7 linked regions of the Homo sapiens genome follow. The protein of the gene in region 1 purifies or fractionates together with the protein of each later gene. This does not show direct contact. Each region holds a gene or a part of one and is shown in the gene's direction. Other genes may lie near its edges.

What was found.
Region 2: the proteins of PIP4K2A (region 1) and DNAJC13 purify together in Homo sapiens (co-immunoprecipitation; 3 studies listed by BioGRID and IntAct, with this or other methods). This does not show direct contact.
Region 3: the proteins of PIP4K2A (region 1) and ARK2N purify together in Homo sapiens (co-immunoprecipitation; 3 studies listed by BioGRID and IntAct, with this or other methods). This does not show direct contact.
Region 4: the proteins of PIP4K2A (region 1) and UBE2H purify together in Homo sapiens (affinity purification with mass spectrometry; 3 studies listed by BioGRID and IntAct, with this or other methods). This does not show direct contact.
Region 5: the proteins of PIP4K2A (region 1) and CLASRP purify together in Homo sapiens (co-immunoprecipitation; 3 studies listed by BioGRID and IntAct, with this or other methods). This does not show direct contact.
Region 6: the proteins of PIP4K2A (region 1) and ACIN1 purify together in Homo sapiens (co-immunoprecipitation; 3 studies listed by BioGRID and IntAct, with this or other methods). This does not show direct contact.
Region 7: the proteins of PIP4K2A (region 1) and SBF1 purify together in Homo sapiens (co-immunoprecipitation; 3 studies listed by BioGRID and IntAct, with this or other methods). This does not show direct contact.

The regions. Positions count from the first base shown.
Region 1 is NC_000010.11:22,610,079-22,613,578, reverse strand, and holds part of PIP4K2A (phosphatidylinositol 5-phosphate 4-kinase type-2 alpha), read left to right. Parts: intron 1-3,500. UniProt on the Homo sapiens protein: Catalyzes the phosphorylation of phosphatidylinositol 5-phosphate (PtdIns5P) on the fourth hydroxyl of the myo-inositol ring, to form phosphatidylinositol 4,5-bisphosphate (PtdIns(4,5)P2). Has both ATP- and GTP-dependent kinase activities.
Region 2 is NC_000003.12:132,455,502-132,459,001, forward strand, and holds part of DNAJC13 (dnaJ homolog subfamily C member 13), read left to right. Parts: intron 1-733; coding exon 734-900; intron 901-999; coding exon 1,000-1,079; intron 1,080-1,161; coding exon 1,162-1,331; intron 1,332-1,767; coding exon 1,768-1,867; intron 1,868-3,500.
Region 3 is NC_000018.10:46,261,034-46,264,262, forward strand, and holds part of ARK2N (protein ARK2N), read left to right. Parts: intron 1-1,895; coding exon 1,896-2,085; 3' UTR 2,086-3,229. UniProt on the Homo sapiens protein: AMPK substrate important for exercise capacity and skeletal muscle function.
Region 4 is NC_000007.14:129,837,961-129,841,460, reverse strand, and holds part of UBE2H (ubiquitin-conjugating enzyme E2 H), read left to right. Parts: intron 1-2,125; coding exon 2,126-2,254; intron 2,255-3,500. UniProt on the Homo sapiens protein: Accepts ubiquitin from the E1 complex and catalyzes its covalent attachment to other proteins. E2 ubiquitin conjugating enzyme that transfers ubiquitin to MAEA, a core component of the CTLH E3 ubiquitin-protein ligase complex.
Region 5 is NC_000019.10:45,063,045-45,066,544, forward strand, and holds part of CLASRP (CLK4-associating serine/arginine rich protein), read left to right. Parts: intron 1-967; coding exon 968-1,183; intron 1,184-1,298; coding exon 1,299-1,586; intron 1,587-3,500. UniProt on the Homo sapiens protein: Probably functions as an alternative splicing regulator. May regulate the mRNA splicing of genes such as CLK1. May act by regulating members of the CLK kinase family.
Region 6 is NC_000014.9:23,085,137-23,088,636, reverse strand, and holds part of ACIN1 (apoptotic chromatin condensation inducer in the nucleus), read left to right. Parts: intron 1-3,500.
Region 7 is NC_000022.11:50,468,536-50,472,035, reverse strand, and holds part of SBF1 (myotubularin-related protein 5), read left to right. Parts: intron 1-3,500. UniProt on the Homo sapiens protein: Acts as an adapter for the phosphatase MTMR2 to regulate MTMR2 catalytic activity and subcellular location. Promotes the exchange of GDP to GTP, converting inactive GDP-bound Rab proteins into their active GTP-bound form.

The DNA.
Region 1 (3,500 bases):
CACTCTTAGCAGGTGGCCATGGCCCTAATCCCCAGAGAAAATAGGAGCCAGTGGTCGGGAGCCCCATCTTCCCTCCATCAGTTCTGCTCCCTCCCCATGACACCTATCTCTTTTCCCTCCTGTGAACAGGAAAGTCGCTTCCCTCCTCAGAGCCTCTCCTTCCTGCATGCCTGAATCCCATCCCCTCCCACTTTCTCGAGAAGTGCTACGGAATGTCCCTTCTCTGTCAGGTCCTCCCTCTGTCCCTCATCCCTCTTCATCTCGCTCCTGTCCTTCCCTGCCAGGCTCCTTAGAAATCAGCCCTGTGCAGTGCCAGCATTTCCTTAACTCAACTTAGTCTGGGTTCCATTGCTACACTCCACCGAAACAACTCTGCCAAGGTTGCCAAGGACCTCCTGTGCCGTTCAATCTGGCTGACATTTCCCAGTCCCTGCCTTCTCAAAAGCATCATGATCATCCCATAGCATGTTTGAACCCCCTTTTCCCTTCACTCCCATTGGGTGGCCCTGTGCTTTTTCACTTCCTGCCTCGATGGCAGTTTTCCCCTTTCTCATCCTCTTCTCCAGGCTTGGAAACATTCCCGTTCTTGAAGACTGCTTCTCCGCCTTCCTCCCCATCACACCGGCCCCTCTCCAGGTTACCTCATCCACTCCTCTGGGGAGCTAATGTCTGATGCACAGATACACACATTTTTATCTCTTGCCCCTGCTGCCCCTGGGAACTTCAGACCCACCTGTCCACGGCCTACCTGACATTGACACTTAGATGTCCCAAGAGCGCATGAAGTTTAACAAGCTCAAAACTGAACTCTTCTCTTAAGATGCATTGTGCCAGTCGTTGGACCCACCAGCTTCCCCCGCATGCATGCAGCATTCCCTCCATCTTTCCCTACATTTCTAGTCTGTCATCATCAAGCCCCATAGATTTCAGCACTTCAGCATGCCGGAGTCTCTCTGCTTCTTTCGTTTCTGCTGCCGCCTCCGCCCTCTGCTGAGCTGCTCTCCTCTGTCTGGTGCAATTCTACAGCAGCCGCTTCCCGGTGCTCCTGGGCCTGTTGTTCATCCCTTTCATGCCACGCACCTTGTCTATTTCTGCACTGTTTTCCCATTAACAGTGTCCCCTCCTCTCTAGGACTCGCCTTCTTCCTGGAAGCCCTGTCCACCTGCCCTCTCCTTTCTCCACGAGCCATTGCTGCCCAGGGAAGCCTCACATGCCTCCCCCATCTGGCCTGGGCCTTTTCCATACTTGCTCGTAGCCCATTGTGCTTCTCCCTCCTGACTCTGTCATTGTTAGAGTTCAACACTTGGGGCAGTTCTTCAGTTAATGTGTCTGCCCCTCTGGACCATAAGCCCCAAGAGGACAAAGACTGGTGTCCGAGCTGTGCCCAGCACAGAGTGGACTCTTAAAGGTTGTGCTGACGCGAGGATGGGTGGGGAAGGAAAATCAATAAGGAAAATTCTCAGTTTACTCATTCCATGTTGGCTGAAGTTTTCATATTTTCTCCACAAAACATGTTCCAGAGCAGGTACCATAAAGCAAAAGGATGCAGAAAGTTTCTGGTTTCCTGTTTCCTGTCTGAGAAGACTCTCTTAAGTGATACTGATTTAAGCAGCCTGAGGAGGCATCAAAGCTTTGGAGGATCTGCTGAACACATCACGCGCATTTAAATAATCAGTGTCTGATCCCACCTCCACGTTGGGTTTCGCTTTCTCTTGTTCCACAAGATATCGAAGTGCTGATTGAGTTGGCATCCAGCTTCATTCGCATTGTGTTTATTATCACAAGACTTGGATTTCCATTATGATTTTCTTTTTCTGTTATTTTTCAAACTTTGATATTCCACTGATAGCATAAGGATACATAAACTTTAATTTTTCATAGATATACTCTGGGAATGACTTAGTATCATAAGATGCTTGAGTAAAGTGAACTGGAGAAGCTATATGACGTTAGATTCCTGTTTTTGTTCAGTGGGTTTGAGAAGCTAGCTGTCAGCTGTCACTATCATTCCTCTGTTGTGTTTGCCTTTTCTCTCTGGCCACCATTCCTTTCTTCTCTTTGCATTTGGCCTTCTTTAGTTTAACTACAGCGTATCTAGGTATGCTTTGAGTATTCTTACTTATATATTGCTTTGAGTATTCTGCTTTTTTTTGTTTTTTTTTTGTTGTTGTTGTTTGTTTTTTGTTTAACAGACATGGATCCACTCTGTCACCCAGGCTGGAGTGCAGTGGTACAATCACAGCTCACTGCAGCCTTGAAATCCTGGATACAAGTGATCTTCCTTCATCAGCCTCCTAAGTAGCTGGGACTACAGGTGCACACCACCACGCCCAGCTAACTTTTGTTATTTTTTTATTTGTTAGAGACGAATTCTGTTGCCTAGGCTGGTCTCAAAGTCCTGGGCTCAAGCAGTCCTCCTGCCTCAGCCTCCCAAATTGCTGGGATTACATATATGAGCTGCTGTGCCCAACTGTATCTACAGATTTATAACGTGCATTAATTGTGGAAAATTCTGAATCATTATTTTTTCAAATATAATCATCTTTTGTTCATCTTCTATTTCTGTATAATTTCTCACAGCTTAAAAAATTCTATATCTGATCATCTTAGTAACTAAAGTCTTGAAAATATTAATTAGTCGTTGCTGTCTCTGTGAGCTCATGTTTGATTGATCTTCATCTGTGGGAAGCCTGGAGGCCTGGCAGGGGTTGCTCTCCTCCGGAGATCATTTACATTTACTTCCACCAGGTGTTGGGGCCACTTTCAAAGGCTTCCTTCAAGGATCTCAGGTTAACGTTGAAGCCTTTGTTGAGCTCCCAGCTTTCGTTTGGCCCAAGTAAGTGTTGAAACTGGCATTTGTCCTCGGAGTCCCTCCTTTCAGGCTTGCTTAATGGTCCCCACACTCCCTGTGGATTAAACTCACTTTGGGGGAAGAAAGGTGTCTTGGAGATTGCCTCTACTGTCTGTGAACCCAGCAATGTGATTAAAAAAAACAAATAGCTCTATCAAGCAGCTCATTCTTTTGTTGTTTGCTTGTTTTGTTTTTGTAACTGAGAATCCTTCAGCGTACCTGCCTTCTATCCTACTGGAAGCATAAATCTTTGACATGGTTTTTATTGCTAGCAACAAGGAAAGTCAACATGCAAAAATAGTTAACGAAGAGAAAGTTCAGGTTTTTCAAAATTGTGTCCAAAGCTGTCCCTTTCATTCACTGGAACTTGATCTTACCCTTTGTCCTTTGGAAACACATCTTTGCTTTTGTTCTTGACTCATGTCCAACCCACCTCCTTCTCTTGTAGTCCTGGGACCACGTGTCTTCTTCCTTCCCTGAATGGAGGTTCTTCTTTTGGTAAATTCATGCCCCACCCCAATCTTTATTTTTAAACTTAGTTCCTGTAAGGGAAGTAAAGAGCACACAGATGAGTTCAATATATAAATCACGTCCATTAATCCAACAAATATTTACGTGAAAAATTTAAAAGCTTTCTTTCTCAGATAAC
Region 2 (3,500 bases), on another chromosome or scaffold:
ATGAAAAGATGCCCACAGAGAGACTTGCACATGAATGTTCGTAATATCATTACTCATAGCCAAAAACAGAAGCAATCCATATCTAGATCAGCCAGTGAATAAACAGACAAAATGTTGCCTGTTCATACAATGGAATACTACTCAGCAATAAAAAAGGACTGACCTAATACATGCAACAACTTGGATGAATCTCAAAAGCCTATGTATGATAAGTAAAATAAGCAAGACACCTAAGACTACATATTCTATAATTCTGTTTTTATGAAGTTTCTTTAAAAAGCAAAACTATAGAGATAGATCAGTGGTTTCCTGGGGCTGGGGAGTGTTCTTTTGCAAATGGGCACAAGGAAATTTTTTGGAGTGATGAAAATATATCAGAACTGATGATGATTATACAGTTGTATAAATTTATTAAAAATTATCAAACTGTACGTTTTAATTGGATGACTTGTGATTTGTCAATTAGAACCGAGTAAAGCTGTTAAAAATAATTTTAAAGGGAGAGAAAGAGAAATTAAAATTAGTGTTTAAGTAACTTGTACAAGGTCATGTAGCAGCACGGTGAAGAGCTAGTATTAGAGCTCTTCCTAAAGCCCCACTGTTTGTGTTTCCCATTGTAACTGTAGTGTGTCCCTGAGCAGATTACCTGCTAAAGGGCCTATGCTTCATGCTAGATCAAAATTCCCCTTAATCATCAATGCTAAAACCTTTTTTTACTTTTAATCTTACTTAGAGATTCCTTATTAGCAAGTTTGCTGGATGGAGTAAGAGCCTCTGGTAATAGAGATGTTTGTGTAAAAATGACACCAACCCATAAAGGTCAGCGATGGGGGTTACTCAGCATGCCTGTTGATGAGGAAGTAGAGAGCCTTCACCTCAGGTTCTTAGCTACGCCTCCAAGTAAGTATTGATTTAAATGTAATTACATTTCCACTCATCTACTTAATTTAAGAATTAGGAATTCGTATCTTCTTTTTGAACCTCTTAATCTCTTTACAGATGGCAACTTTGCAGATGCTGTATTCAGGTTCAATGCTAATATTTCATACAGTGGAGTCCTACATGCAGTAACACAAGATGTAAGCTAAGTTTTATCATAATTGTTCATTGTTACTAACTTTTGGTATGGAAACTTTTTTGAAATACTCTTTCTTCACCTAGGGTCTCTTCTCAGAAAACAAAGAAAAACTGATCAATAATGCCATAACAGCATTACTGTCCCAAGAAGGGGATGTCGTTGCTTCAAATGCGGAACTTGAGAGTCAGTTCCAGGCTGTGAGGAGGCTTGTGGCATCCAAAGCTGGTTTCCTGGCTTTCACTCAGCTTCCAAAGTAAGTTGTCTTCTGAAACTTAACTTCTCTTAGAGAATTTGAACTACTCAAAATGGCAAATAATGAACGATTCACCTCCTTTTCCTTGACTAAACCAGATACCTTTTATAGGGTGATATGGTACTTTATTCATGAGAAATGAAAAAGGAAGGTGAGGGCAGCAGAAGCGGAATATTGGTCCCATACTCACCAGTAATATAACTGACTCTTGAATTTGAATGGGAAATTACATGCCTTTTAGTTTTAGTTAACCCTAAAAAATATTTTCCCTCTCAAAGAAAAAACTATTATGAAGACTGATAAATTTCAGAGGTGGAATTTAAAATACGTCATTGTTCCAGTAGTGCAATGGAAAGTTAATATGATCTATTTCAATAATATAACAATTTAAAATGTTCTGGTATTGCTAGTATATGCTTGTTTTTTGTTCCAAAAGGTTTCGCGAGCGTCTAGGGGTGAAGGTAGTAAAAGCACTCAAAAGAAGCAACAACGGAATAATCCATGCAGCAGTTGATATGCTTTGTGCCCTTATGTGTGTAAGTAGTAGTTTTCTTAAGGAAACTGGTTTTTCTTAAGTTGACTGGTGGTTTTGATTTCCACAGTCCCAGATTTTCATTGTACCAATAAGTTCTTGTTTCTGTTTCATAAATTGTTCTCATAGTTACTCAAACCTTTGTTTAGCATATCCTAAATACCAGGCAATGTGCTGTGTGCCAGAAATTCAAAGATCTTAAGACAGAAGTTCTTTTCTTCCTCACTTTGTTGACAGTCTGGTAAGGTAGGCATATCTGTACAAGGTAAGGTAGTAGGGGCCATAGGATCTTGAAAAGCAGCACTTTATTTTTGTTTGGTGATGAGGGGAAGATGAAAGATTCTCACCCAGTCTTTCTGGAAGATGTTACATTTGATCTGAATCTTGAAGGACAGGCAGGAATTTTCTAGCTCTGGAAAGGCCTTCCTGGGTGGGGAATAGCATATAAAAAGGCATGTTTGGAAAGCAACAAATAATTAAATATGGTTGGGTTATAAGGTATGGATGGGGGGTAATTAGGAGTTGCAGCTAGAGATGTATGCAGACAGTAATAAAAAACCTTCTGTATCAGGAGGGAGGAGCTAGATTTTTATCTTTTTGTAAGGAACACCTGAAGGATTTTTTTTAGCAAGAGAGCAGTAATGTGATCAGGTTTGAGTTTTTAAAAACCCACACTGGTAGTATGTGGAGAATAGAAGTAAAATTAGAGGCAGGTAGACCAAATTGTCACGTAAGAAATGAGTTGCTGAGCTAGGGTAGTCACAGGGCTAAAGAAGCAGCACACCTGAAAGCTGTTTGCGCAGTAAAGATCTAACTTAGTGGCAGCTTGTACAGAGGGAGAAACAATTGTTTAGTACAGTTTTGAAGTTTCTGATTATCTCAGTTTTGTGTGTAGTACCTGGGACTTTTCCTTATATAAAGTGTTTTAGGCAAGCTTAGTCGTACATAAACATAAGTAAATACTTCTGTAAAACCTTGCATTCCCAAAAGCAAATTAATTTTATTTACTGTTCCAAACAAGTAGTGAGATAACTAGAACTTAACAATGATATGGAGAGTTGCTTTATTCGAACAAAAGATGTTCCTATTACCCAGGAAATTCTAATGGTAGAGAGCTTTGTGTCAGGCTCCCCTATCAGGAAATTGCAAAGTTCTTAGGAGCTCTGTGTCAGGAACCAGGGTAAAAGACTGTTGCAACAAAAGATTCTGCTAGTGCCCCTGTCTGCAAGGGTTTTAGGTGCTCTATGTCAGGAGCCAAGGATGGAGACCAATGTATATATTTTTTAATATTTCATGTATTCTCCCTGCTCAGAATTCTTTCCCTGCTTATTCATTAAGAGCTCAAGTCAGCTTTTAAATGAAGCTTACCAAATATACACACCTACTATGTACCCACAACAATTAAAATAAAATTTTAAAAATAAATGGAGCTTTCTTATTCCTGAAGGTGGTAGTGATGTATCCCTCCCTGAAGTGAGATTACCCTTCATAAATATTACACTTGTCTTTCTTAGCAATTTCTTCTTTGAATTATTGCTATTTCTAAACATGATGTATTTTTCTCAATCTGTCAGCTTCCTGAGGATAATATTCATGTTTAATTTTAATTTTTATCCTTAACAGGCCTTGTCAAGCTG
Region 3 (3,229 bases), on another chromosome or scaffold:
TGCCAAAGATTACATTGACTCTCTTTGCCACTCGTTGCCTGAATTCTTACCAGGTTTCTAGCCAGCTTTACTTCAATTAGTGCTTATACAGGTGAGCTTTTGAATTGTCAAGTAACTTTATACTTCTAAATTGTTAGTTTGGGTCTATTTTTGTACTCTGATGATTCTTGTTGTGTTTTGCTGCACCCGATTTAATACACACATCTGTAAAGCAACAACATGATATGGAAAGCATTGGACCCAAAATCAGACCTGTCTTCCTTGGCCTATCACTTTCAAGCATTGTGACTCTGAGCAAATCATGTAACCTGTTTAAGCCTCAGTTTCCCTCTCTGTAGAGTGAGGATAGTAAATTCCATGCTTACCTCATAGGTCTGTCAGAATTGTCCAATGAGATAATATATGTGAAACTGCTTAGTAAAGGTAGTGTTCCGTTGGCCTTCAGTCATCAAAACCATTTCTATAAATGTTGAATGGACTCCTTTGGCTGACATTTTTCCATGACTACATGGTCACTTAATATGAATTTATATAATGGGTTGAACAGATGTGAATTAGACATTGGGCTTTATGTCCCTTATTTTAATGTCCCTATTTATTTCTCTAGCTAATCTTTGAAAAGGTAGTAGCCTCTGGGTTAGTAACTACATAGCCCATCTCTGGACAGATGACGGGCTTCTGGTACTGTAGCAAATTTGCGTTCTGCCCTCTGCTCTGGCCCTGAGAGATCTGTTCTTAGGAATTTTTCTTAGTAAGGGAGAAGTTATCAGATTAAGCCTTTGTAGGAGTAGGGCATGTTTGCAGGAGTTTAAGGGTCCTTGGGGCAGTTTTGCAACTGAATCGTGTCCATTGTTACCCTAATGTTCTTTTGAATCTGGTGGTGTAGGTAGCATTAAACCAAAGCTGAAATTCTCAAGTGGCCCAGCATTATTTGTTGCTTACAGATTGTCAAACAGCTGCTCAGGAGCCACTGTGGTAGTTTAGTGACTAGACTCATGCCACTTGTTACTTCTCACATAAGCTACCTGAGGGCTGGTCAGGAAGTTTAGATGAGAGGACATAGCATTGATCACATGAGTTGCCTGCCTTCCTCTCATTTGAGTCAGAACTTAGTGTTTTGGCCTGGAGGTTCACAATTCTATCATTTGACTGGACTGTGGAATTCAAACTGTCAGTGTTTCTGAAACAATTTTATTTCAGTGAACTCTTGGTGTGACTTGCTAACAAGGCAGTTCTCTCCCTCCGATAGAACCCTTTTAGTGGATCTAAACTGAAGATTCAGCTGTGTTACTTTCACGGAACCAAATTATAAGCGATTCTGTTGAATGAACCAAGTGCTTCTGTTGTGACCTTCAGGACAAGGGAAATTGATCCTTTATTCATGATCTATTACTTACAGACTTTTAGAAATTTAATCTGTGAAAGGGTATTACTGTCACTGTCTTTGAAGGCATTATTACCAATTATAAAGCTTATTTTAAGAACAAGTTTTAACTATTTTTCTTACTGTTTGATTTGTTCAGACTAAGATTGTTTGGGCATCTTAACTTTGTTCTGGATTTATGTGTTGCCCTATCATGAAGATCCCAGAGGTGTAAATGAGTCCAGAGAAACATCCTGTCACCCATGGTCAGTGACACAACTCAGGAGTTTCTGGCTGAGATAAGACCCTTGGCCTTTTTAAGGCTAAACTGAGAGAGGGACCAAGTGGGGTGTGGTGGGGTAGGGAGAGAGGGAGACAGAGATGGAGGGAAGGATATTGATTGTGGGTTTTATGAACTTGCATACTAGGTTTATCTTAGTAAAAATGTTGATAAGTACAACTGAGGTCATATTGTCTTCTGTTTTTCCTGTGGTGGAATTAACCATGCTTTTGTTCTTCATCTCAATTGCAGGTGTGTTCATCCTCGAGGTGGTGTGATTCAGAGTGTTTCTTCATGGAAGCATGGCTCGGGCACGCAGTATGTTAGCACCAGGCAAACACAGTCATGGACTGCTGTGACTCCCCAGCAGACTTGGGCTTCACCAGCAGAAGTTGTTGACCTTACCTTGGATGAGGATAGCAGGCGTAAATACCTACTGTAATACAATGTCACTGTGTTTCCTCTGCACTGTTCCCTTCCACTTCCTCATCCTCTTTGTGACATGGAAGTTCATTGTCATAGCTTCAGCTTCAGAAGCTGTTTGTGGCATTTGTAGGATTCAAACTCATGGAAAATTCCCTCCTCTTCCCCCCTTTTTTTAATTAAAAGAAGTCACTTAGGAAAATAACATCACAGAGAAAAGAATTTCTTCTTTCCCTCAGTAGGAATATAGAATGATGAATTTTATTAGACAACTTTATTTTACTTGGTGACTTTTAATCTTAGGAAACTCTGCCTTCCTTTTAGAATAATATTTTAATTGCCAGGCAAAATGGGTTTCAGTTTTTGAATCTTGTATTTATTTTTCTGTATAATGAAATTAATATCTAGACTTGACCACTATCTGCCCACCCCATTGGCACTCCCATCTTAGGGCATTCGCACACATATCAGTCAGGTCCTTATTGGCACCTAGTAGGGCATGTGCATTTAAAAACTTGTCCTTAAAAATAGAAGACAGAAGTATTAAAATTATATTTTCTTTTATTTTAAGTCTTCTGCCTTCTTTCTTGAGTTTGCTCCTGTTGACTTCCCACAGCACAGATAATTGACATGTCCCTTTGTGTTTATAAATACTACTAAGGTGACCTAGTTGTTCTCCTTGTTGCAATAATTAATAACTCTTTGCAAAATGTCTCCTTTGAGACAGAGGCATTTCAGATAGATACCCACCATGAGGTGTTCTGGGCATCTGAAGGTATTAAGAGTTCAGTGGGAAAAATCTCTCTCCCTCGCCTTTTTTTCTGGTTTAGTCAAATAACGGGTGAACATAGAAACCTGTTGGGAAGAATATGAAAAGTTATGTGGCCTCTGAGGCTACAGGCACTTGCAAATCCGAGAGGAAAGTGCCGTCTTTCATAGCTGGTCTCTGTATAAAGAGTATGTAGCAACAACTGTTTAACATCCGAGATGAAGTGGACCTGATGCTGTATTTGGGTATTTTTCTCCTCTACCTTCTAAAAAAAAATACCATAAGAAGAATCAGAATGTACCATAAGAAATCAGATGCAAAGCACGTTAATGTCATTGGTAAGTTTTACAGAGTCTAAAAGGATTAGCAAAGGGTAGCAGGAGCTTCAGGGAAT
Region 4 (3,500 bases), on another chromosome or scaffold:
TTGGTTTAGGTGAGCACATATAAAACATTTTTATCACTGCAGAAAGTTCGGTTGAGTAACACAGCTCTAGATTAGTCTCTAACTGCTCAGCTTCTTAACCTTACAGTGATAAGAGCCACCTCTTATAGGTAAGATTTTCTAGAGCAAAGTTGGGCAGACCTTGGGTACTTGTTTTTGTATATGTAGTTTTATAGGAATACAGCCACATCGATTTGTTGACCTATACTTTGGCTGCTTTTGTGTTACAGTGGCAGAGCTGAGTTTTGAGTAGTTATGACAGAGACCATATGTGGCCTGCAAAGCCTAAAAGTATTTGACCCTTTACAAAAAGGTTTGCCTACCGCTTTTATCTAGATCAGGGTTTCTTAACCTCAGCACTGCTGACATTTTGGTCTAGATAATCCTTTGTTGTGGGGCTGTCCTGTGCATTGTGGTGTTTAGCAGCTTCCCTGGCCTTCACCCACCGGATGCCAGTAGCACCGCTTAGATATGACAACCAAAAATGTCTCTAGACATTGCCAAATTCCATGGGGAGCAAAATCACCCTTGGCTGAGAACCACAAATCTCAAGCAATGTGGCTTGGCAAAGCATTCATCTGTAATACTGCAAAGGAGCGCCCATTGTTAAAAGCAAAATTGGTTGAAAGAGCTGACTAAATTAATGAGTAGTTTTTTATGCTACTTAGTATACTTCAGCATTGTCTCCAGAAACAGGAATGTTTTATATAAAACATGACAAAGCAGCTGGAGTGGGGCAGAGACATGGAAGCATTCTCATGTCCTTCCATTTCTCAGGGGTGCTGCAGTTCACTGAGGAGCAGAGTGTGGAAGTTACAGCATATCTGAGCTATGGGGTGTGTGGGTTGTGTTATACCCAGGTTCTCAGGGCCTGCTTTTCTAAAACGCTGGGTAACTGCAGGTGTTTGTTGTTTGCTAACTGTGTGTAGATATCATCTGTGTATGCCTGGCAAGAAAGGAGTTAATAAATGTCACGTCTATAATCCCAGCACTTGGGGAGGCCAAGATGGAAGGATCTCTTGAGTCCAGGAGTTCAAGACCAGCCTGGGCAGCATAAGGAGACCCTGTCTCTATTTAAAAAAAAAAAAATTAGCTGGGTATGGTGGCACATGCCTATAGTCCAATTTACTTGGAAGACTGAGGCTGGGAGGTTGGCTTGAGCCCAAGAGTTTGAAGTTGCAGTGAGGTATGATCACACCTATGCACTCCAACTTGGGCAACAGAGTGAGATCCTCTCTCAAAAAAAAAACTTTTTTAAATAAATAAATGCAGTAGATTGGTGCTTATCTGTCTTATGAATATTTGTAGTCTTATGTGGTCCATATAGATTCCTATCCTCATTACCCAGAATAATTGAAAAATTGGTTATATTTACCTCCATTAGAAGTTGCAAGAATTGAATTAAATGTCAAGTCCTATAAAATTGTGTTCAAGGCTGAGCGCAGTGGTTCACACCTGTAATCCCAGCACTTTGGAAGGCCAAGGCTGGCAGGTCACTTGAGGTTAGGAGTTTGAGACCATCCTGACCAACATGGTGAAACCCCGTCTCTACTAAAAATACAAAAATTAGCCAGGCATGGTGGCAGGTGCCTGTAGTGCCAGCTACTTGGGAGGCTGAGGCAGGAGAATCGCTTGAACATGGAGGCAGAGGTTTCAGTGAGTCAGGATTGCACCACTGCACTCCAGCCTGGGCAATAGAGCAAGACTCTGTCTCAAAAAAAAAAACAAACAAAAAAACCCCACAAAAACTGTCTTCAATTCTTTTAAGACCCAGCATCTGAATACCTTTCAGAGTGGGGGGTTTTGTAAGCTGTAGAAAATGGCTGTGTGAAATAGCCATATAAATAGAGTGAAATAGAATTGGGAAAATTGTCCTTCAAAGTGAATGTCAGGTATATCTTTATCTCGTTCTTCAAATTAAAATTAAAATGTTTAAATTGGTATTGAAATGAATGTGTAATACAAGTCACATGTAATAGAGCACACTCGTATGGAGAATCATCCCCGTGTGAATATCTAAGAAGGTAAGCAGCTTGACTACTGAATGCAAGTGAATTTTAGGTGAACTTGCATTTCCCATGTGTGACATGTTTGTTTGGTTTTTCAGATCTTACCAATATATTTGAGTCCTTCCTGCCTCAGTTATTGGCCTATCCTAACCCCATAGATCCTCTCAATGGTGACGCTGCAGCCATGTACCTCCACCGACCAGAAGAATACAAGCAGAAAATTAAAGGTAAGAGGATGGGTAGTTTAACCTGGAGACAAAAGAACTTAAATCTGTTGGGCTTCAGTCATTAAAAGTCCTTCTTAAATTACTTAGTTCCTAATACTTTTTCTTAGGCCTAAAAAGAGACAGCTGTGGGCTGAAGTAGTGCTCACCAACCTCGGGTGGCAGTAGCACCAGTTTGCTCATCCTTTGCGATTTAGAATCCTATTTTCCCATCCTTAAAACAGTTTACGTGCTGATGGGATATGAGTTTCATTTAAATGAAGATAAGTTTGCGACTGGCCGTGGTGGCTCACGCCTGTAATCCCAGCACTTTGGTAGCCCGAGGCAGGCGGATCACAAGGTCAGGAGATCGAGACCAGCCTGGCCAACATGGTGAAACCCCATCTCTACTAAAAATACAAAAATTAGCCTGGTGTGGTGGCACGCGCCTGTAGTCCCAGCTACTCGGGAGGCTGAGGCAAGAGAATCGCCTGAACCAGGAAGCAGAGGTTGCAGTGAGCCTAGACTGTGCCATTGTACTCCAGCCTGGGTGACAGAGCAAGATTCTGTCTTTAAAAAAGAAAAAAAATCTAAAGCTCCACCTGGGTTCATTGGATTTTCCATTTTACCTCTGTGTATGTTTCAGAACTTTCATAGTGAAAAGTCTAGATACATGAAGCTCCACCAAGAAGCAAAGGAATTCAAAGTTTGTGAAATATACCTGCTGCTTTTAACCAATGGCAGGCATTAGTATCTAGCCAGTTTTTCACATGATGGGCCTATCTGCATAGCAGTCCAGAATGTTTGCTTCCTCAAAATGTGTGGCCTCTCTGAGGTACATTTGCAAGAGGTGGCAGTAGAAGTAATTTACCAGAGCTTGAATGTGCAGGTCTTCACTCTGAAATGTGCAGGTATGAGGCAAACAGGGACTATTCATGAAACAATAGCTTTTCTTCTATTTGTTTTCTAATTCTTCTTCCAAGGTCTCTATAGGGTATTGTTTGGAGCTGTTGTTGAGATAAAGCAGAAATAAATTTACTATAATTAATTAGATCTCAAGTGCTTTGCAAATTAATATCTAATTTATGTAGCAAAATATATAGCTAAGCAAACATGTATTTGAAGAAAAAGGCAGTCAGTTTCAGCCAGATAAAGTGCTGTTATGAGACTATATTAAAATTTTGACATAGGAATCACTTAGCAATGTCTGCAAACCACAGATATCTTGGAGCAGAGTATATTTCTCTAGTTCACATATGCATTCTGTCTC
Region 5 (3,500 bases), on another chromosome or scaffold:
ATAAGGTGTTGAATGGCTTCTGGGGAAATAAAAGGTGTAGGTTAGTGCTCCATACATGGGAGTGTCAGGAATATCAGATACTTTCTTTTTATTTTTAAAATTTTATATATTAAAAAACACGTTTGTTTTTTTTTTCTTTAAAATATTGAGATGGGGCTCACCATGTTGACCAGGCTGGTTTTGAAGTTCTGGCCTCAAGCAGTCCTCCCACCTGGGCCTTCCAAAGTGCTGGGATTACAGGCATGAGCCATCACACCTGGCCACTTTGTTTTTATTTTACTAAAATAGAATTGCACCACACTCAGTGTTTTAGAACTTGCTTTTTCCTCCCAGATTATCCATGTATCTTTTGAGTAAAACTTTTCTGTGTTTTGTACAGAGATCTGCTTATCTTTTTTTTTTTTTTTTTTTTTTTTTTTGAGACGGAGTCTCACTCTGTTGCCCAAGCTGGTGTGCAGTGGCGTGACCTGGACTCACTGCAACCTCTGCCTCCCAGGTTCAAGCAGTTCTCGTGCCCTCAGCCTCCTGAGTAGCTGGAATTACAGGTGCGCGCCACCATGCTCGGCAAATTTTTTTTGTATTTTTTGTAGAGACAGGGTTTTGCCTTGTTGGCCAGGCTGGTCTCAAACTCCTGGTCTCAAGTGATCGGCCTGCCTCGGCCTCCCACAGTGCTGGGATTACAGGTGTGAGCCACCGCGCCCGGCCTGCTCATCCATTTTTCATAGCCACATAAAATCAGAGCAGTTGTGTGTCATTGTCCTTCCTGGTTATTTAGCGAAGGCTGCATGGTTGTGAGTCAAGTCCTTGTCCAGAGCTGGGTCTCCACTGCCCTCCAGGCTCCATCCACCCGCCTGGTTTCCCGGGTCGCTGTGGCCCGCGCTGGCGCTGCTGTTGATCTGCTGTGTGTGCTGTTCCCGAAGAGGCTCCGGGAGCCTGAGCTAGTGAGCCTCCTCCTCCCTACCCGCAGGTCACCCTCGGAGTCCAGCTCAGAGTCCCGCTCCCGCTCCCGCTCCCCGACCCCGGGCCGCGAGGAGAAGATCACGTTCATCACCAGTTTTGGGGGCAGCGATGAGGAGGCAGCCGCAGCCGCTGCTGCCGCAGCAGCATCAGGAGTCACCACAGGGAAGCCCCCCGCACCTCCCCAGCCTGGCGGCCCCGCCCCGGGACGTAATGCCAGCGCCCGGTCGGTAACGCTCACGCCGCCCGCCCTACGCCCCGGTCACCATGGGGGGTACCCGGGGCAGAGGGGGGCCGCGGCTCAGGCCTGCGCTGACCGGCCCTCCGTGCCCCGCCTGCAGCCGCCGCTCCTCCTCCTCCTCCTCCTCCTCTTCTGCCTCGAGGACCTCCAGCTCCCGCTCCAGCTCTCGCTCCAGCTCCCGCTCTCGCCGTGGTGGGGGCTACTACCGTTCCGGCCGCCACGCCCGCTCCCGGTCCCGCTCCTGGTCCCGCTCCCGCTCCCGCTCCCGGCGCTATTCCCGGTCCCGTAGCCGTGGCCGGCGGCACTCAGGTGGGGGCTCCCGAGACGGACACCGGTACTCCCGCTCGCCCGCCCGGCGTGGTGGTTACGGGCCCCGGCGCAGAAGCAGGTGTGTGTGGCTGGGCGTGGAGGTGGGAGGGGCTGGGGGGGCGCGGTCTCCGATCCTGGGGAGAAGGTGCTCAGAGGGAGGAAACCTGGCCGTCCAGCTCAGAGAACACCCCATCTAAGGGGACAGGCACAGGCCACTGCTCTTCCGCAGGAAGCCCTTGGTTGGAAAGGGCAAGGCATGGGTGTTTGCGTGCGCGTTCTGGTGGCAGTGGAGGTGGATCCCAGCCGCTGTTTTCCACGACAGGGTGTGGAGAGGAGACTGTGCATCTCTCTCTCCTCAGGAGACTGTTTTTGCTGTCAGGGGTTCCAGGTGGAGGGGAGTAGAAAGCGCATGGACGCTCCAGGGTTTTCTGTAGCTTGAAGGGACGGGTCCGGGCCTTGAGGGCTGGGAAACCCCTTGCGGAGGGGGAGGGGCGCGTTCCTGTGTGGCCAGGAGCGGATGGGGAAGCGAAGCGGGTGGAAAAAATCAAGACAGCTCTTTGGCCTGGCGTGGTGGCTCACACCTGTAATCCCAGCACTTTGGGAGGCCGAGGCAGGCGGATCTCCTGAGCTCAGGAGTTCGAGACCACCCTGGGCAACATGGTGAAACCCCGTCTCTACTGAAAAAAAAATTAGCTGGGTGTGGTGGCACACGCCTGTAGTCCCAGCTACTTGAGAGGCTGAGGCAGGAGAATCGCTTGAAACCGGGAAGCAGAGGTTGCAATGAGCTGAAATCGTGCCACCGCACTCTAGCCTGGTGACAGAGTGAGATTCCGTCTCAAAAAAAAAAAAAAAAAAAAAAATTAGCTGGGCGTGGTGGCACGCGCATGTAGTCCCAGCTATGCAGGAGGCTGAGGCACGAGAATCGTTTCAGCCCCGCAGGCGGAGGTTGCAGTGAGCCGAGATTGTGCCACTGCACCCCAGCTTGGGCTACAGAGTGAGACTGCGTCTCAAGAAAAAAAAAAAAAAAAGACATTTCATTTTGGAGACGACATGGTGAGAGGCTAGCTCTAGGGATGGTTTAGAAAATAAAGTCACCTGGGGACTGGTCCACCCCCTTCCGGTCCCCTTGCCTGTTGGGGTCAGGGCTGCCCTGGGAAGGGCAGCGACGCTGGGTTGGTAGGAGCATAGACTGCAGGGCACCTGCCTGAGTGTAGAGTCCCTGGGCCTCTAATTCTGTAAAATCGCGGTAATAGCATCCGCTTCTCTGAGCTGTTAGAGGTGTAACAGGTAAACCCATGTAAGGTGCTTAGGACAGGGCTGGTGCTGGCTAAGTGCCGTTAATATCGTCAGCATCATTACCTGCGTTATTGTAGCACTGATCGCCATGTCAGCTGCCTTCAGGGTCTGGCAGGTAAAGTAGAGGGGCCAGGTAGAGATCCTGCTGACCTGGCAAGCACATGTTCCCTCCAGTCGGGGCGTTGACCGCTCAGCAGCAGGTCTAGTGTCACCCAGTCTTTCTAGTTCTCAGGAGAAGTTGAGGGTCTGGATTTTTAGAGGATAGCTCTTGTTTCCTTTACTTTTTTTTTTGAGACAGAGTCTCACTGTGTCACTCAGGCTGGAGTGCAGTGGCACAATCTCGGCTCACTGCACCTCCTCCTCCTGGGTTCAAGTGATTCTCCCGCCGCAGCCTCCCAAGTAGCTGGGATTACAGGCATGCGCCACCACACCTGGCTAATTTTTGTATTTCTAGTAGAGACGGGGTTTCACTGTGTTGGCCAGGCTGGTCTTGAACTCCTGACCTCATGATCCACCCACCTTTGCCTCCCAAAGTGCTGGGATTACAGGCGTGAGCCACCGCGCCTGGCCCTTGTTTTCTTAATAATGACAACAAATTTTTATTTTATAAAAACGCAATTCAAAAATTAGCCGGGTGTGGTTGTGCACATCTGTAATCCCAGCTATTCAGGAGGCTGAGGCAGGAGAATTGCTTGAA
Region 6 (3,500 bases), on another chromosome or scaffold:
CACCATAATCAGTGTTTTTAGGATGTATGGAGGTTTCCAGCTCTTCTGATTAATACAGAATTCCTTCATGGACTACACTTGATTTTAGTTAAAAGGCTGAGCAGCGATAGACTCTTCATGGAAATAGATTTTTTAGGAGACATTTAATGGTGGGAAAGAAATTTTCCAAAAGGCTAGAGAAAATAGAGAGCCTTTGAGTCTAGTTTTAAGGTCCTGTTTTACTCAGTCCCTGTTTTTCTTGATCCTAGTCTTAGACCCAGAAAGACATTTCTAGAAATCTTTTAGTAAGAAAATACTGGCCAATACTTTGGAATTATTAAGTTCCTTAGGGACCTCTTTTCTCCTGAAATACGAGAGTAGTAGACCCTCAGCTGATCCACTTTGCTCCCTGCGCCCTTTCCCCCTTGATTTTAAAGCCGAGAGGAAAGAGAAAGCTCTTCTAAAATTGTCGGTATTTCTTCTCACATAAAACAAAAAAAAATTTATTGAATTCCTACTGCATACATATCTCTGTGAGAGTATATTGGGAGTTAGCACAGCATAAAGTCTGTTAGGAAGAGAGAACAATTACACATAAATCGAACAACAGAAGATAGTATGTGACAATGATACAGACATAGGGAACCAAAAGAGTGGAAGAGCTCTGAGGACTACAGTGATTAGAGAAAGCCTCATAAGGAGATACAGGATTTGAGCTGAGCCTTAGAAATGGTTTGGCAGAGAGGATACAAGAAGATATTTTTAGGAAGGAACAAAGTCAGAGAGATAGGAATGAAAATGGTATTTTTAAAGGAGAGGTAGTAGACTAATCTAGCCAGAGTAGAGTATTTCACATTCAAGAATAGTCAGCAAAACAATTTAAAAGGTAGATGAGGGTGATACACAGAGGGCTTTAAATGCCAGGCCAGTAAGTATGAGGGTTTTTTTTTTAGTTCTATAGGTAATGGGGGAACCATTGAAAATTCTTAATAGGACCATGATTTGATAAGGACCTCTCTTTAAAAAGAGAGGCTGTCAGTTCTTAATATAATTCGAAATGAAAATGAGAAATGATTTCTGAAATAGATTTCAAAAGCAAAGATTTAGAGTAAGGGTAGCCAATCTTTTCAGTGCTTTATGTCATCAGTAAGACCCTGCCCATGGCTAATGATTGATGGAGGAAAAAAAAAACCCCAGACGTTAAAAAAAAAAAAAGGTGAAAAATAAATTGGAAAATATGAATGTGGTAAATTGTAGAGTACTGCTCATAATTGCCGTAAATGCTCTTCAGTGTCCTTTATGCCATAAACTTTTCTACCTCTGATCTTGGCTTAGATAAGAATCCCATTATAGATGTTGTACAAAATTTAGTTAAGGTCCTGAATGGAGTGGCCATTTGGAATTCTATCAGTGCTTAGTTGAATCAGCATTAACCCTAGTGTTTGTCCAGAAATCAGATTCTTCCAGGTATAGAATCTCAGTCTGCCATATGCCAGTATGCCATTGCAATGGCAGCTTATTTGTTGGCTTTGAATGTTTTGGGGTTCTCTCTTGAATAACAATTTTTGATTAAGTTTCCTACTAACATTTTTCTAAACGCTACTGGCACCTGAGGGAGATTTTTTATTTGTTTTAATATTACTATGTTTAAGAATATGGATTCCTGGCCCCTACCCAAAGAATCTCAAGGAATGGGAGTCCTGGGGCTCTACATTTTTTAAAAAGTCCCTGAGTGGTTCTGTTGACCAATTCATTTTATGAATGACTAACTGAAGGAAGAGTTTTTCAGTGTTATAATTTATCAAGATCTTTGGTTTATATTCCAGCATCCTCCTGTTTATATGCTATTGGCAAAATTCCAAATAGGAAGGAAGAATTGGTTTGTCCAGGTGTGGTGTCTCACACCTGTAATCCTAGCACTATGGGAGGCTGAGGTGGGAGGATCTCCCAGGAGATTGGCCTGAGCAACATAGTGAGTCCTATCTGTACAAAAAAATAGAAAACATTAGCTGACTGTGATGGCACATGCCTGTAGTCCCAGCTACTCGGGAGGCTGAGGTGGGAAGATTGCTTGGGCCCTAGCAGTCAAGGTGGCAGACAACAGAGTGAAACCATGTCTCAAAGAAATAATTGGTTTATAAAATCCTGTCTGACTTTCCCTCTTATGTCTCCATCACTTTCTTCAGATATTTCTAAGGTGTTAGGACTCATTATCCACCTACCATAGTCATAAATTGTCTGAATTTCCTTCTATATCATGACTGTGTGTACAGAAATTCTTACCGTCCTTAATTTTTTCAAAAAGAGCTCAAACTAAGAAAATACATTTTTAAATGCATATTCAGAATATTGATTCTTTAACAAAGGTGATTTTAGCCAGCCTTTGGCTTATAGAGTATGCCCCTCATTCCGTTTTCTCCATATTAAAACCTGGATGCGGAAATTCTAGAGAAATGCTAGGTAACTTACTTACAGGTCTAACATGAGTCAGATTTAGGTTTGGCATTGTTTCCAGGTCTGTATTCTCTTCATTCCTGCTTCTTATTCACACCTAAGGTTACCTTTTAGCCACAGGCTTTTCTTCGATCTCTGGCTTCCTTACTTTGGTCCCACAAATCCTACCCAGGAATTTGTTTTCTAGGATGAAGAACTATTTCCTCTATAACCCTTAAACATTCTGCACTTTAATATATCCTGCATTGTCTAGCAACTGCCTTTTCCTTTCTGTGAAGCCTTCTGGCTTTGGACTCTTGGAAATCTAATATTTACCCTGACTTGTTTTTCGAATCCTGAAATGTATTTATTAGCCTGTTATCAGTATCAGCTCCACCCTTAGCTAAAGCGCTCACTGTCTACACGTGTTACTAACATCTGGCCTAAGACATTCATTGTGGCCATGTTCTTATAATAGAAGATATCACCTTTTTCAGAAGTTTGTCTGCATCACATCAGCTCTTTCCAAGGAACTAGAGATTCCTCATCTCTTTATATTTTGCATTGCTGACTAATTTCTTGTTTCATGTCTGAGGCGCCTCCAGTTTCTGCTTTTATTGCAAAACAGTGATGACCAGAACTTTCTGAACAGCCCTGTTCATTTCTCCAGATCTCTTTGATGACTTACTACAAGTTCTTCCAGAGGAGTAATCATCCAGAAATCCTATCACTGCAGTTTTACAGTATCAAAAATAACATTATAATTCAATAAATAGCATATAATTCACAGTAGGTAGATAAAGAGGCTGTTTTGCTTGTACATACTAATTTTAAAATTGCAACTCAGTTATTTGACTTTGTTGTTGTTGTTCTTGTTGTTGTTGTTTTTTGAGATGGAGTCTCGCTCTGTCGCCCAGGCTGGAGTGCAGTGGCGCGATCTCTGCTCACTGCAAGCTCTGCCTTCCAGGTTCACGCCGTTCTCCTGCCTCAGCATCCCAAGTAGCTGGGACTGCAGGCACCCGCCCCCACACCCGACTAATTTTTTTTTTTGTATTTTTAGTAGAGACGGGGTTTCACCATGGTCTTAA
Region 7 (3,500 bases), on another chromosome or scaffold:
GCTGAGGTGTCTTTGAGAACAGGAGACACATTTGATCTGGCCCTGACCTGGCCATCGGCCTTCCATCTCCAGCAGCTGAGTGTGCATCTGCCTGGGAGGAGGGGCTGGACCCCTTGGATCTGAGAAAAAGACCTTTCACCCTATGGCCTCGCCTCTCCTCCTGACTGTGATGTGCTGGCTGCATTCTTGAGCCCCATCTACTGTCCCCACCCACGTTCCTGCCCTCCCTCTGGAGCGGGTTGGGGCTGTTTGGGATGGCCTCAACTGCCTCCCAGCCTCCACCCTGGGAGCCGGAAGGGGTCCAAGGCCTTGGGTCAGAACTGCTCAGGTCTGATGGGCAGGGGAGGTTGGGGGGGATGGCTGTGGAAGCTGCAGGGGCCCTGCGCATGGCCTGCTGCTGCGGCCGAGGGAGCCATGTGCACGTTGGGGTTGGGTGGGTGGCGTAGCAGGAAGGTGCTGTCCTTCCTTCTTTTCTCTTTTCCTATAGCTGGGTTCCCCACAAGCAGCAGAGCCGGCCAGGGCTGGTCTTCGTGCACTGTGGGGAGTGTGGTGGGGAAACAGGAGAGGCTGCCATCCTTCTTTGCCTCCCCACAGCACACGCTGGCCTGGGCCAGCCCTCCAGGCGTCAGAGCCTGGCACTGATGATGGGGTGCTGCCAGCAGATGACAGAACGCGAGGTCTGTGTTCGCCTGCCCGCCCGCCCGCCTTTCAGGCCTGCCGTCTGCGTGGGGCTGGCCGCAGGGACATTGGTGCAGGAGGGAGTGCTCTTTGAGGGGCTTTCAGGACAGAAGCCCCAGTGTTGTCCTTAGGTGGCCCCCTCAGCCCCATGTTCAGAGGTGGAGGTGGCAAGGAAACCTTGGTGCCCAGTGCCACCCAGCACACCGTTTGGATTCGTCCTGTTGCCAAGGGGAGGAGTGGGGAGGGCACCCTCCCTCCTGTGTATTCTGAGGTAAAGGCAGCACTCTGATGGGCAAGGAGCTCAGCTGCTGGAGGTCACTCCTATGGCAATAGAGCTTCAGTGGGTGGGGGACCCTGGGAAGATGTGGCAAAACCCCCCACATCCCCCTGGAGGCCAAGATGTGGCCTGGCCCCGGACAGCACAGAGCTGAGGTGCAGGCTGGGACCTCAGAAGGGTGAGGAGGAGAGCTGCTCACAGCTGAGGGCTGCAGGGCCCTCCATGGCCTGCCTTTCCAGGGGCCAGCTGTGTTCTGTCATTCCCTGGGGCTCCGGAAGGTGCCCTGTACTTCCGACTGAGGAACCTGTTTGCTTGTTGGGTGTGGGGAGGATGGTTGTGTAGCCGACTGTACGTGTTCTACAAGCCCTAATTAGCCTGTGGTCCGTCCCAGCCAAGCCAACAGGTGCACTAGCAGTCACTGGGGTGTGGTGGAGGGAGGTCGGTCCTAGGGTCCCTGTAGGCCCCAGGCTGGGGCAGAGTTTCCCAGGGGAGGGGGTGCTCTGTGGGCTGAGACCTGAAGGGCCAGTCTGGGGCTGTCATGGCACAGAGGAGCTCAGGGAGAGGTGCCTGCTTGGCCTGGCCCACTTGGGCCATTGGGCCAGCCCAAGGAGAGTGGAGCTCAGGGCTGGCTCTTTGGAGGGTAGAGCCCTGCAGAGGACTTAAGGCTGAGTGAGAGTTGATGCTTCACAAGACTAGCGGGGGGTGGAGAGGGTCAAGGTAGATGGTGACCTGCCACTCTGCCCATCCTCCTGGGGAAGGCTGCCTTCCCTTCCTGGCCTTGGGGAGGCTGCAGTGCAGAGACTGCTGTCCCTGTTCATAAACCCCTCTTCCTTCCTCCACCTGCTGCCTCGTGGCAAGAACTGGGTGAGCCCTGGGTGCCAGCCAGGGCTGGGCCCAGATGGTGGTTTGGGGCCAAACACAAGGAGGCCTTTGGGGGAGTGGGCGGGGTGGGGGAGGAGCCGCAGCTCAGGGCCTGCGCCTGAGTGAGCTGTCCTTGGGGGTGTGGAGGTAGGTGTGGCACCCGCAGACACCTGGGCCCCCACCCGTCTGCCGCCTGTCCTCTGCAGGGTGTCGGTGGGAGGGGGAGGGGAGCAGGAAGCTGAGGTTTTGTGAGTCAGAATCGGCCCCTCACCGCCCCACCATCTCCCACTTAGCAGCAGCCTGCCCACTGCCGACTTCCTTGGCTCTGCCCCTGTAACCCTGGAGGGCAGATGGTCTCCCCGCCTGTAGGGGACCCGTGGAGTGTGTGCCATTGGGCTGCCAGAGTTGCTCATCTGTTCCCAGGAGGACCAGGCATGCTGGATGTGGGGCTGCAGCTTCTTGGGGGCCGGGGTGGGGGGTCCATGAGGGGCTCTGTGTTGAGCATGACCCCCGCCTTGCCCATCTGGCTCTGCTGCTTCCGCCAGGTGGGTGGCGGTGTAGAGGCCCGTCCAGACAGAGGATGGGCCCTGGGGACCTGCGGTTTGTGTGGAGGAGAAGGCAGGCAGGCTTTCGTCTTTCCTGCTGCACCTGCTCCATCCTCCACAAGCCCTGGGAGGCCTGCGGAGCCGTCCTGCTGCGGGAGCCACACCCTGAGTGTCCCACTGTGGTCCCCACCGGGCTTCCTGGTTTGGCTCTCCAGGGGTGAGCCACAGGCAGGGACCTTTACCCCACCGGTGTGGACTGGGCCTGGAAACAGGGCCCTGGATGTGGTAGTTCTGGGGCCCCACGGAGAGGAGGGGTCTGGTGGGGAGACATAGGCCTCTTGGCTCTCCCTGCCCTGAAAGCCCTCCTCCTGGCCCAGGGGAGCTTAGGCTGTGCTCAGCACCCATCCTATGGCCTTTGTACAGGGAGATTTGGAGACAGGGAGCAGGCCTGGGTGTGACCACCGTCCCACTCTCCTCTGAGAGCTGCTGGGGTCCAGGTGCTCAGGAAGCCATCTGGGCATCCTTCGGTGGTCGTCCTGGACCAAGTCTCCATCCTTCCCGTCTAGCTGCTGCCCCTCTAGGTCCTGCTGGCTGTGGGGCTGGTGTTCTAACAGGGAGCTGCCAAACCCCATCTTCTGGGACCTGTACTGGGGACTTGTCTGTCTCTGAAGCAGCTGGGATAGGGAAGAGTTTGGGGCTGTGGGCGCAGGGGGTGTCCTCTAGCCTTGTGGGGCTGAGGCTTCTTGAACCCCACACAGACAGCAGGTTTGAGTCCTCCACACCCCCGGCTGGGTCCAGGGCTGGTGGGTGACAGGGAGCTCTGGGGGATGCCCACTGTTGGGGGGCCGAGAGCCTAAGTGGGGGCCTGGCGGTGGTGGCAGATGCTGTGGGGGCCTGTGGAACAGTCCCGAAGTGTTGACCTTCGATGGAGGGCTGCTGTGCTGTGTGAAGCTGGGCTGGTCAGGCTGAAGGAGGTCTCTGGGGTGGGATCGGAGAATGGGGTGTAGCGGCAGGGGCTTCTCTACCCTCAGGTGGCCCTGGGGTCTGCAGCTGTCAAGCAGACTCTCCATACGGAGCTATTTTTAGGGAGCTGTGGCTGATCTGGTGCCAGATGAGGGCCCAGTGGGTGGGAATGTTTC